2 separate regions of the Homo sapiens genome follow, and region 2 is linked to region 1. Evidence: fine-mapped expression QTL. Tissue or cell type: unexposed skin. Region 1 holds a variant in brackets; the other region holds the start of a gene. All regions are shown on one strand. Distances are between the middles of the regions.

Region 1 (4,395 bases):
TGGCTAAAGAAGAATAGCATAACATAGTTTAAAACACAAGTTTGTTGACTGCTTAAAATGTTTGTAGAACTTGTTGTGGGAGCAGAAAATAACGAGCAGCCTCCATCAGGGGATTGGTAGCAGTGCCCTGGCTTGATCAGGCTTTGTAAGCATGGCGTGAAGCATTGTGGGAAATCCTATCCTGTGCTAAGCATTTGAGCCAATGGCCCTGTCCTGCACTGATCAAAGTACTCCCATTTCCTCAAGTTGTACCCTCCACTAAACAAGTTATGTCCATCCTTAAGGAACATTCTTGGTGTCTCACTTAATATCCCCATGGTGGTCTGAAAATTTCCTCTCTAGAAATTATTCTTCTATTTTTCAGGAGTTTGATAGTCAGGTAATTTTTTCTCCCATATTATCAGTTTCTTAATTTATATTTATCCTTACATGTCATTTCCAAGCACTTCTTTTTCTTTCTTTTTTTCCCTGTCTTTGCTCACATCCTTTCTATTTTGCCAAGGGCTTGCTTCTTCCAAGCCTTTTTATCCTCTCCTCCCGTGATCAGTACCCAAGTTTGCAGCAAGGTTCCTTGTTGTTTTATGGGTTGGTGTTTTTGCTTAGGAAATCCTCATGTTTTAGGCTGCACCCTCAATCTGTAATCTGAAGGTCAGATTACAGTTTAATTCTTCTTGAAGCCCTCATCAAGTTTCAAAGAGAAGCCTTGTTATTTGCCCTTTGTAAGAAGGAACACCTTGAAAGGCCATGGGTCTGTCTTCTCATCCTAGAGGCCAAGGGGCACTGGGACTGGAGTGGCAGGGAGGCCATGAGCCCCCTCCCCAGGTGTAAGACTCCCAGTCTGGCACTGCACCTCTGAGGGCATCTGCATGTGGTGGTCCCTGCTAGTGGCTTCCAGAAGTACCTTCTGGCATTGGCTCCTGAGGTCATCACCCTTGTTGATGACAGCTGTCGGCAACTTGCCTTACTGAAGCCTTTCATCCTCCCTCCCACCGGCAGCAACTTCCAGGGTCCTTGATGCATCTCCAACACGCTTCCTACAATAATGTGTAGCCGTAGGAAAGTACAGACTTTGGGGTCACACTAGCCTGGTTTAAAATCCCATCACCCTTTCCCAGCTGTGGTACTTTGGGCTTGTTGTCTAATCTCTGAGTTTCAGTAAATCTGTAAGATAAGGATTATAACATCTTTCTTATAGATTTGTTGTAAATATTAAATGAAATACATAGAATGATTCATATGTGGCTAGTAGATAGTAGGTCTAAATAAAAGACAGATGTTATTATTATTCCAGGGATAAATTGGTAGCTTTGCAGTTTGGTGTTAGTTTTAGCACTTCCTATGAAGACAAAAAAAAAAGCACTTGCTCTTAAAAGTTTCTTTCAAGCTGTTTATTTGAAGCTCCCCAAAGTCAAGCACCACCCAGCATCACACACCCTTCACTCCCTCTTCCTCTACTTCAATGAAGGCCACTAGTTTCTGAAACTGTCGTGACAGTAACCAACTCTCCTTTGCCCTAATGGCTTCTTCCCAAGATCTACCTTACAGAGCTCAGTACAACCTTAAGGTTCTGCCTGAATTTATGAGGTATTTAGCAAAAATCTCACATGTGCCTGAATATTTTACTGTTGACATCTTAGCAGTGCCCTGTCCCCCTTGGAGGACCGAGGAACCCAAAAACGTCAAGTCTCAGACAGAAGCTCAAACTAGACATAAAAATGAAATTCTTATAGAAATTCTGGGTTTTACTTCTGTGCAATCATTGTTACTATGCAACCATGCTTGAACGATAACTACCCTTTTCAAGCAAAATAGAAAAGTTTCTGCCTTCAGGCCACACGACCTTTTAGAGACAAAACAAGTGCAAACAAAACCGTGTGCAATGTTTTTTCCATGAATGTGATGTTGAAAATGTACCTGAGGCTTAGGTGTGGCATGACTCGCTATGTAACACAGAAGAAAACTGGATTTAAAAAC[T/C]GGAATTTCTTGGCTGCCCATTCAGACACGACCCACTACATACCATTTCCCCCCTTGCTTAGATTTCCCTACAGAAAAGAGAAAAACTGTGGAGAAAATGGAAAACAAAGCCATAGGAGAAAAGAGCTGAAAACACTTCATGTAAATGTGCATGCTGAAAGTAGAGAGCAAGCAAGGATTTTAAAATGCGGTGCCTGAATTTGAGTAGTTAGGACTAAACACAGAAGTGTTGATGAACTCTAAGGCTAAACTCTTGGATATTTAGCAACACGCCAGGGCTACTTTATCAGCTGAACAAAGATTCCAAGAACTCTGAGGGGAAAGAAAAAAGAACCCTGTAACTCAGCGGTCTCCAGCCTTTTTGGTAACAGGGAACTGGTTTCATGGAAGACAGTTTTTCCACGGACTGGAGGATGGGGGAGATGGTTTTGAGATGAAACTGTTCCACCTCAGATCATCAGGCATTAGTTAGAATCTCATAAAGAGCACGCAGCCTAGATCTCTCACATGCACAGTTAGTTCATAATAAGATTCGCACTCCTATGAGAACCTAATGCCACTGCTGATCTGACAGGAGGTGGATCTCAGGAGGTAATGTGAGTGTTGGGGAGCAGCCATAAATACAGATGAAGCTTTGCTCACTTGCCCACTGCTCACCTCCTGCTGTGCGGCCTAGTTCCTAACAGGCCACGGACCAGTACTGGATTGGGGACCCCTGCTCTAACTGATGCAACACCTACAGCCCACCTACACCAAGTACAAGGCTCCATTTGGTCTGCATATAGAATCTCTGGGATGCTAGGGTGTGCTTCACTCATTCTGAGTTGATTCCTAGGTTCTTGGACTAAAGTGGGCAAGTGTTATGAAGGGAACTAACAGAGCAAACAGTGGAAGGACCACATTCATGTGGATCACGCTTTCCACATTAGGACCAATTTCACTGCCCATTCTACTTGTTTCTAGTTTTCCTCTTTTAATTTGAGCAGTGTCACAAGCGCACATAGCTAACAATGTTTTTTTTCTCTTCCAAATTCTAATAATAAAATTGTTATTGGCTTTTGATCTTAATCATTAAAATAAAAATAAAATGTGCAAGGAAACTTGCAGTAAGTTTCCTTGTTGTTTCATGGGTGGATTTTTTTTCTTAGGAAATCCTCATATTTTAGGCTATACCCTCAATTTGTAATCTGGAGGTCAGATTACAATTTAATTCTTCTTGAATTTCATTGATGATAAAATCACCAGTAAAAATGATTGAGCCCTAGCCTTCTTCTCAGCACCATGCATTTATAGAGATAAATGAGATCTCACCTCTCACCACTGGTAGGGATGGGTAAAGATAACATTTTGAGGTGGAAGAGAGGGAGACTAAGAGCGTTTGTGCCCACAGCCTTGACTTCTTTTTTTCTATGTGAAAAAAAAATGCTATAAAGACACATGCACATGTATGTTTATTCCGGCACTGTTCACAATAGCAAAGACTTGGAACAAACCCAAATGTCCATCAGTGATAGACTGGATTAAGAAAATGTGGCACATATACACCATGGAATACTATGCAGCCATAAAAACGGATGAGTTCGTGTTCGTGTCCTTTGTAGGGACATGGATGAAGCTGGAAACCAACATTCTCAGCAAACTATCGCCAAGGACAGAAAACCAAACACCGCATGTTCTCACTCATAGGTGGGAATTGAACAATGAGAACACTTGGACACAGGGTGGAGAACATCACACACCAGGGCCTGTCGTGGGGTGGGGAGAGTGGGGAGGGATAGCATTAGGAGATATACCTCATGTAAATGACGAGTTAATGGGTGCAGCAAACCAACATGGCACATGTATACATATGTAACAAACCTCCACGTTGTGCACATGTACCCTAGAACTTAAAGTATAATAATAAAAATTTAAAAAAAAGTGAGAGGCAGGAGGAGGAAGAGCAAACCTGGAAAAAAGCAAGCAATTTTCAAAACAATTGCTCTGCAGAATGGGCAAAGGACAGGACAGTGAATTAACAACCAAAAAAAAAGCCGATTAGTAAAGTCCTGTTTCTTGGATTAAATGGTTATCTCATCTTTGTTGTTGCCGTTGTCATCATCATATCTTTACCATTGTCACTGTCTCCAGAACAAATTAGACTTGAACTACACAACCTTGACATAATTGAGAAGAATATCCCTTTGAGAAACTGACAGTAATTTATGCTAGTTTCACGTTTGTTGTGGGATGTTGTAGGGTGGTCTTATTTATTGTGTCCTCCCTCTCATTTATGTTCGTGTAGGTTGAGCCAGTGATACAGAGAGGCCATGAGAGTCTGGTGCACCACATCCTGCTCTATCAGTGCAGCAACAACTTTAACGACAGCGTTCTGGAGTCCGGCCACGAGTGCTATCACCCCAACATGCCCGATGCATTCCT
Region 2 (4,395 bases), 70 kb before region 1:
CATGAGCCACTCCTCTGGGACTCCATTCCCCCTATTTTGTTCCTCTTTCTCTCCATATCCCCCTTCCTTTCTTCATGGCTGAAGCCACGTCCCTGGTATGGTGCTTGTAAAAACCCAATTCTAAGGTTGCCACCCTTACATTGCTGTATGGCTGTTACTGCCCTTGACATTTGCCCAGTGGGTCCTGGTGGAGGTGAGGCACCAGCTACTTATATTTCATAGTCTCCATGCCCAGTTCTTGTAAGGCTTTGCAGGCTCTTTTATTTCTCATTTTATTTTGCGGTTCCAACATCACTCTTCTCTGATGCTGGCCTATTGCCATTGGCCAGCCCTGCGGACCTTGATCCAATCTCTCCTTGGGAAAAGTCCCTTCCCAGGCAAGTCCCTGAGCACTTTGGTAAGCAGATCCACCTACAGGTCACCTTCCAGACATGATCAAATATTCCCGTATCCTTAGAAGAATATAAATTAGATGCATGACGGTAACTTTGGAAAAGTTATGGGAAAAGATAGGCAGGGGGAAAAACAGGCTGAAATACGAGGTGAGGAGAGAGAATGAGGAGTGTAGGGTGGCTAGTGTGGAGCTTGCTCTTCTTACCCATATTTCTCATCTGATATTCTCTCTTATTTGTTTTTCTATTTTGCATTGTTTGTATTTTTATAAAGACAAAATTTCGAACTTTTTTGGAAACTTGGCAGATCATAAATAAAGGAATAAATAAGCAAGGTAAATTTTAGTGGCCATATTTGTATTTAGCATTCTAAAGACAGGAGTGGTCAAAGGTAGAGGCAAAACCAAAACAAAACAAACTTTTGACAAACATGGTTATGGCCAGAACTTGGAATAGCAAGAAAAGAGAATGTTAAATTAAAATATAACTCTCAAATGACAATTCACCCCTTACCTTCTCTGCTGATGGCAAAGTAGTTTGGCTGACTTTGTCCCATCAACGCCAAACCAAACCAAACAAAAACTAGGTGAAGGCAAGCGTCAGGGCTCCAACTCCTGCCGTGAGGAGCAAGCTCTGCGGCCCCGCAGGGTGGGAGGGTGAGAGAAATTCTCGAGGTGGGGGGCTGGGGAAAGTGAAGTGTGTCCCTCCATTGCAATAGGGACGTCACTGGGAACAAAGGCTCTGGAAAGTCGACAGCAACGGATACGGAGACGTGAAGGTTACCCTGGACGGGCCTTTCTGTGCATCGCACCCCAGACTACCCCCTTTGCTCACTCAATTCCTCCTCTCCAGGCTAAACTTGCTCTCTGCCGTCAATGTCCATTCTTTCCCTGGTAACCTCTCGCCCACGTCCCGCAGAGCCCACGCTCTTCCCGCTCTAGGATTCTCTTGCCCTCCTCCTTTTCCCTCTGCCTCTGGCCTCCTTTTCTCCTCTCTCGGCGTCTGCCTCCTCCTGCCTCCTCCTCCCTTTCTTTCCGGGAAGCCCCTCGCTTTCCTTCCCACCGAGCCCCGACCTCGGGGACCAAGTCAGGGGTCGGGGGCTGCAAGTGGATCCGCTGGAAGGGCCGGGCAGGGTGAGAGTTGGCGGGGCTGGGACCCGACGGGACGGAACGGGACGGGACCGGACGGGACGCGGCGCGCCCTGCAGGCGGCCCGGGGCGGGGAGAGCGGGTCCTGCCCCTCCCGGGCGGGCGCGCGGCCGGCCCGAGGGGCGGTCCCTGGGCTCCCGCTCGCCGCCGCTGCCGCTCCTCGTTCTGCTCCTCACTCCCCAGCGGCTGGAGGCCGGTACCGGCGGGCAGGAGGCGCCCGAGGATGTGCTGCTGGCCGCTGCTCCTGCTGTGGGGGCTGCTCCCCGGGACGGCGGCGGGGGGCTCGGGCCGAACCTATCCGCACCGGACCCTCCTGGACTCGGAGGGCAAGTACTGGCTGGGCTGGAGCCAGCGGGGCAGCCAGATCGCCTTCCGCCTCCAGGTGCGCACTGCAGGCTACGTGGGCTTCGGCTTCTCGCCCACCGGGGCCATGGCGTCCGCCGACATCGTCGTGGGCGGGGTGGCCCACGGGCGGCCCTACCTCCAGGTAAGCGCGTCTCCTCCCGGAGCCCGCCCGGCCGAGCCCGGTCCCGTCCGGACCCCAGAGAGGGCGCAGGTGCGGGTCGTCCCCGGGGCCCGCAGCTCTCTCTCACCTGGCGCAGCCCCGCGCCCCCGGCCACGCTCACTCTCGCCTCCGCGGGCAGCGCCTGCTCTCCCGGAGCCCCAGAAGGCGCGCGGTAGGGAAGCCGAGCACGGATGACCCCAGGCAGGTTTCCTTCTTTGAACACTTTCCTGTCCCCAGCGCCCCACTTAATAGACGCCCCCCCGCCTACACACCTGCAATACACCCCGCTTCATCCCTGATGGGAAGGGAGAAGGACCTAGGCTTTGGCTTTGGGGACCTAATGGGACAGCTCTCAGAGGAGGGAAGGGACAGAGCGCTTTAGTACGTCGCGGACTTGCTGTCTAGGAGTGGAAATCTCAGAACTTCCCAAATCGTGGCTATTTGGGAGCCTCCAGGCGCGGGGCTGATGTCAGCTACACCATTCTCCAGAAGAATGAAGGGCCCCTAAGAATCGCTTAGGGACTTTCCTATTCCGAGAGCTGTTCAGGAAGCCACATTTAGAGACCAAAATCGAAGGTCCCCAGGCAAAATATCCTATGAAGTGACAAAACTTTGGCTTACTTTAATAACCAATAAAGTTAATTTGACCGCTGCTGATTTACTTTGAAGGAGCCTAAGTAACCACCTTGCCTGTTCATGGGTGCTTTACTAAATAGAAAGAAAAAAAAAAAGGAAGAAGAAGATTGTGAGATGACCAGAATGATTAGGTGGCTAGGTTTCCTGGACATCCTTGCTTGATCGTGACCAACGTTTGGATGGCGGTGAACGTACACGCTTTGTTATTATAAAAATTCATCCGAACATACTGCCCTTTGCTAAAAGTCTTGATCCAGATGAAAACTCCGAATTGTTCTGGCATTGCATTAAGGCTTTGATAGTATTTAAATCAGTGTTCTCCGTGGATTTAGAGTGCGCTTCTTAGTAATTTTATCCCCAGGTTCTTTTCGACTGAAATATGCCATCAAACTTGAACGCTGATTCTGGCACTGAGCTGTTAACTCTGGAAGGAAATAAAGTGACAACAATAAAAAGTTCAAAACCACTCTATTATCTATTTTTTCATAAATTAATCGTTTCTTCCCCCAAATAAGTAACTTTACAACTCCAATAAAATAAAGTTTTATGAGGATTGCATTCTGCTGAAGTCACTGATGTATAAATATTCTCCTCCTGCAGCATCTCAGACATTAACTTTATGAACCAAGTATTTGACCACAAATGCAGGCCTCACTAGGGGAATGACTCATTCTCCTGTAATATAAAGTAGACAATACCTTATTTAAATACCTATTTAACGTTTTTTAAAAAAGAAATTTTACCGTTTAGGGAGAGGAGTATAGTATGCCCCTTAACTATCCTTGCATGTTCTACAAAAGGGAGCATAACTCTTACTATGCTAATATTATAAAATGGGACATACTTTGAATGTTAACTCCATATTATTTTCCCTCAAAGAGTAGCATTTCTAGAAAGCCCAGCCAATTGTATGTCAAATGAAAAGCCGTGAGTAGAATTCTGATTCAACATGCCATAATAGGCCCACCACAAAGATAAACTTGGTTAAACTACAGTGTTTTCACCCTGTTTGTGGTTCTTCATAGAGATTGCATAGGACTTAGTTAAGTACTCTTTAGATTGATTTTGAAACATAGAAATTTTCTTAAAGTAATTAGTGAATACACATCACTATGAGATAAATTATGACTGGCTGCATTCTCAATACATTTAATGAGCAATAAATAGGACTTCCCGTCCATTTTTATTCCTAAGGAAATAAAATCATTTTTACATGTAAAGGATGATCGTTTTCTTACTTGGCTGACATATTTTACCTTCCATTTCCATAAACATTCTACTCATTTTAGGACATATAAAATGCATTAAAATTATGCTATTCAATTAAATGGAAAGACAGTTAACTTAAAATCTGTTTAATAAGATGAAATACACCAAATAATATAAATGAAATAAATGTATCAATTTCAGTTTTATTATTCAGGCTGAATGATTCCATTCTCCAACGCTCGAAATTCAGTCTCCTCTCTAGAAACTATTTATTTAAGGTTCTTCATACACTAGTGTGAGAAGAGTATTTTCAGCAACTATACCAAAAAGTGAATAGGATTCTCTTTTTTTTTTTTTTTTTTTTGACAAAGTCTCTCTTTATTGCCCAGGCTAGATTGCACTGGTGCAATCTCGGCTCACTGCAACCTCACCTCTCAGGTTCAAGTGATTCTCGTGCCTCAGCCTCCCGAGTAGCTGGGATTACAGGCGCCTGTCACCATGCCAG

What was found.
Region 2: MOXD1 starts here. The variant in region 1 is fine-mapped to the expression of MOXD1 in unexposed skin (GTEx, PIP 0.97).

What each region holds. Positions count from the first base shown.
Region 1 is chr6:132,328,458-132,332,852 of GRCh38, reverse strand. It overlaps MOXD1 (monooxygenase DBH like 1), which reads left to right. Exons shown (of 12, transcript NM_015529.4): 5 at 4,259-4,395. Among named protein-coding and RNA genes, the nearest start is that of MOXD1, 71 kb to the left of the region's middle. The variant T/C (reference allele first, on the strand shown) is at 1,975.
Region 2 is chr6:132,398,795-132,403,189 of GRCh38, reverse strand. MOXD1 (monooxygenase DBH like 1) reads left to right here and starts at 1,715. Exons shown (of 12, transcript NM_015529.4): 1 at 1,715-2,027. The coding sequence starts at 1,764. RefSeq lists silencers at 1,502-1,641, 1,662-1,831, 1,962-2,011.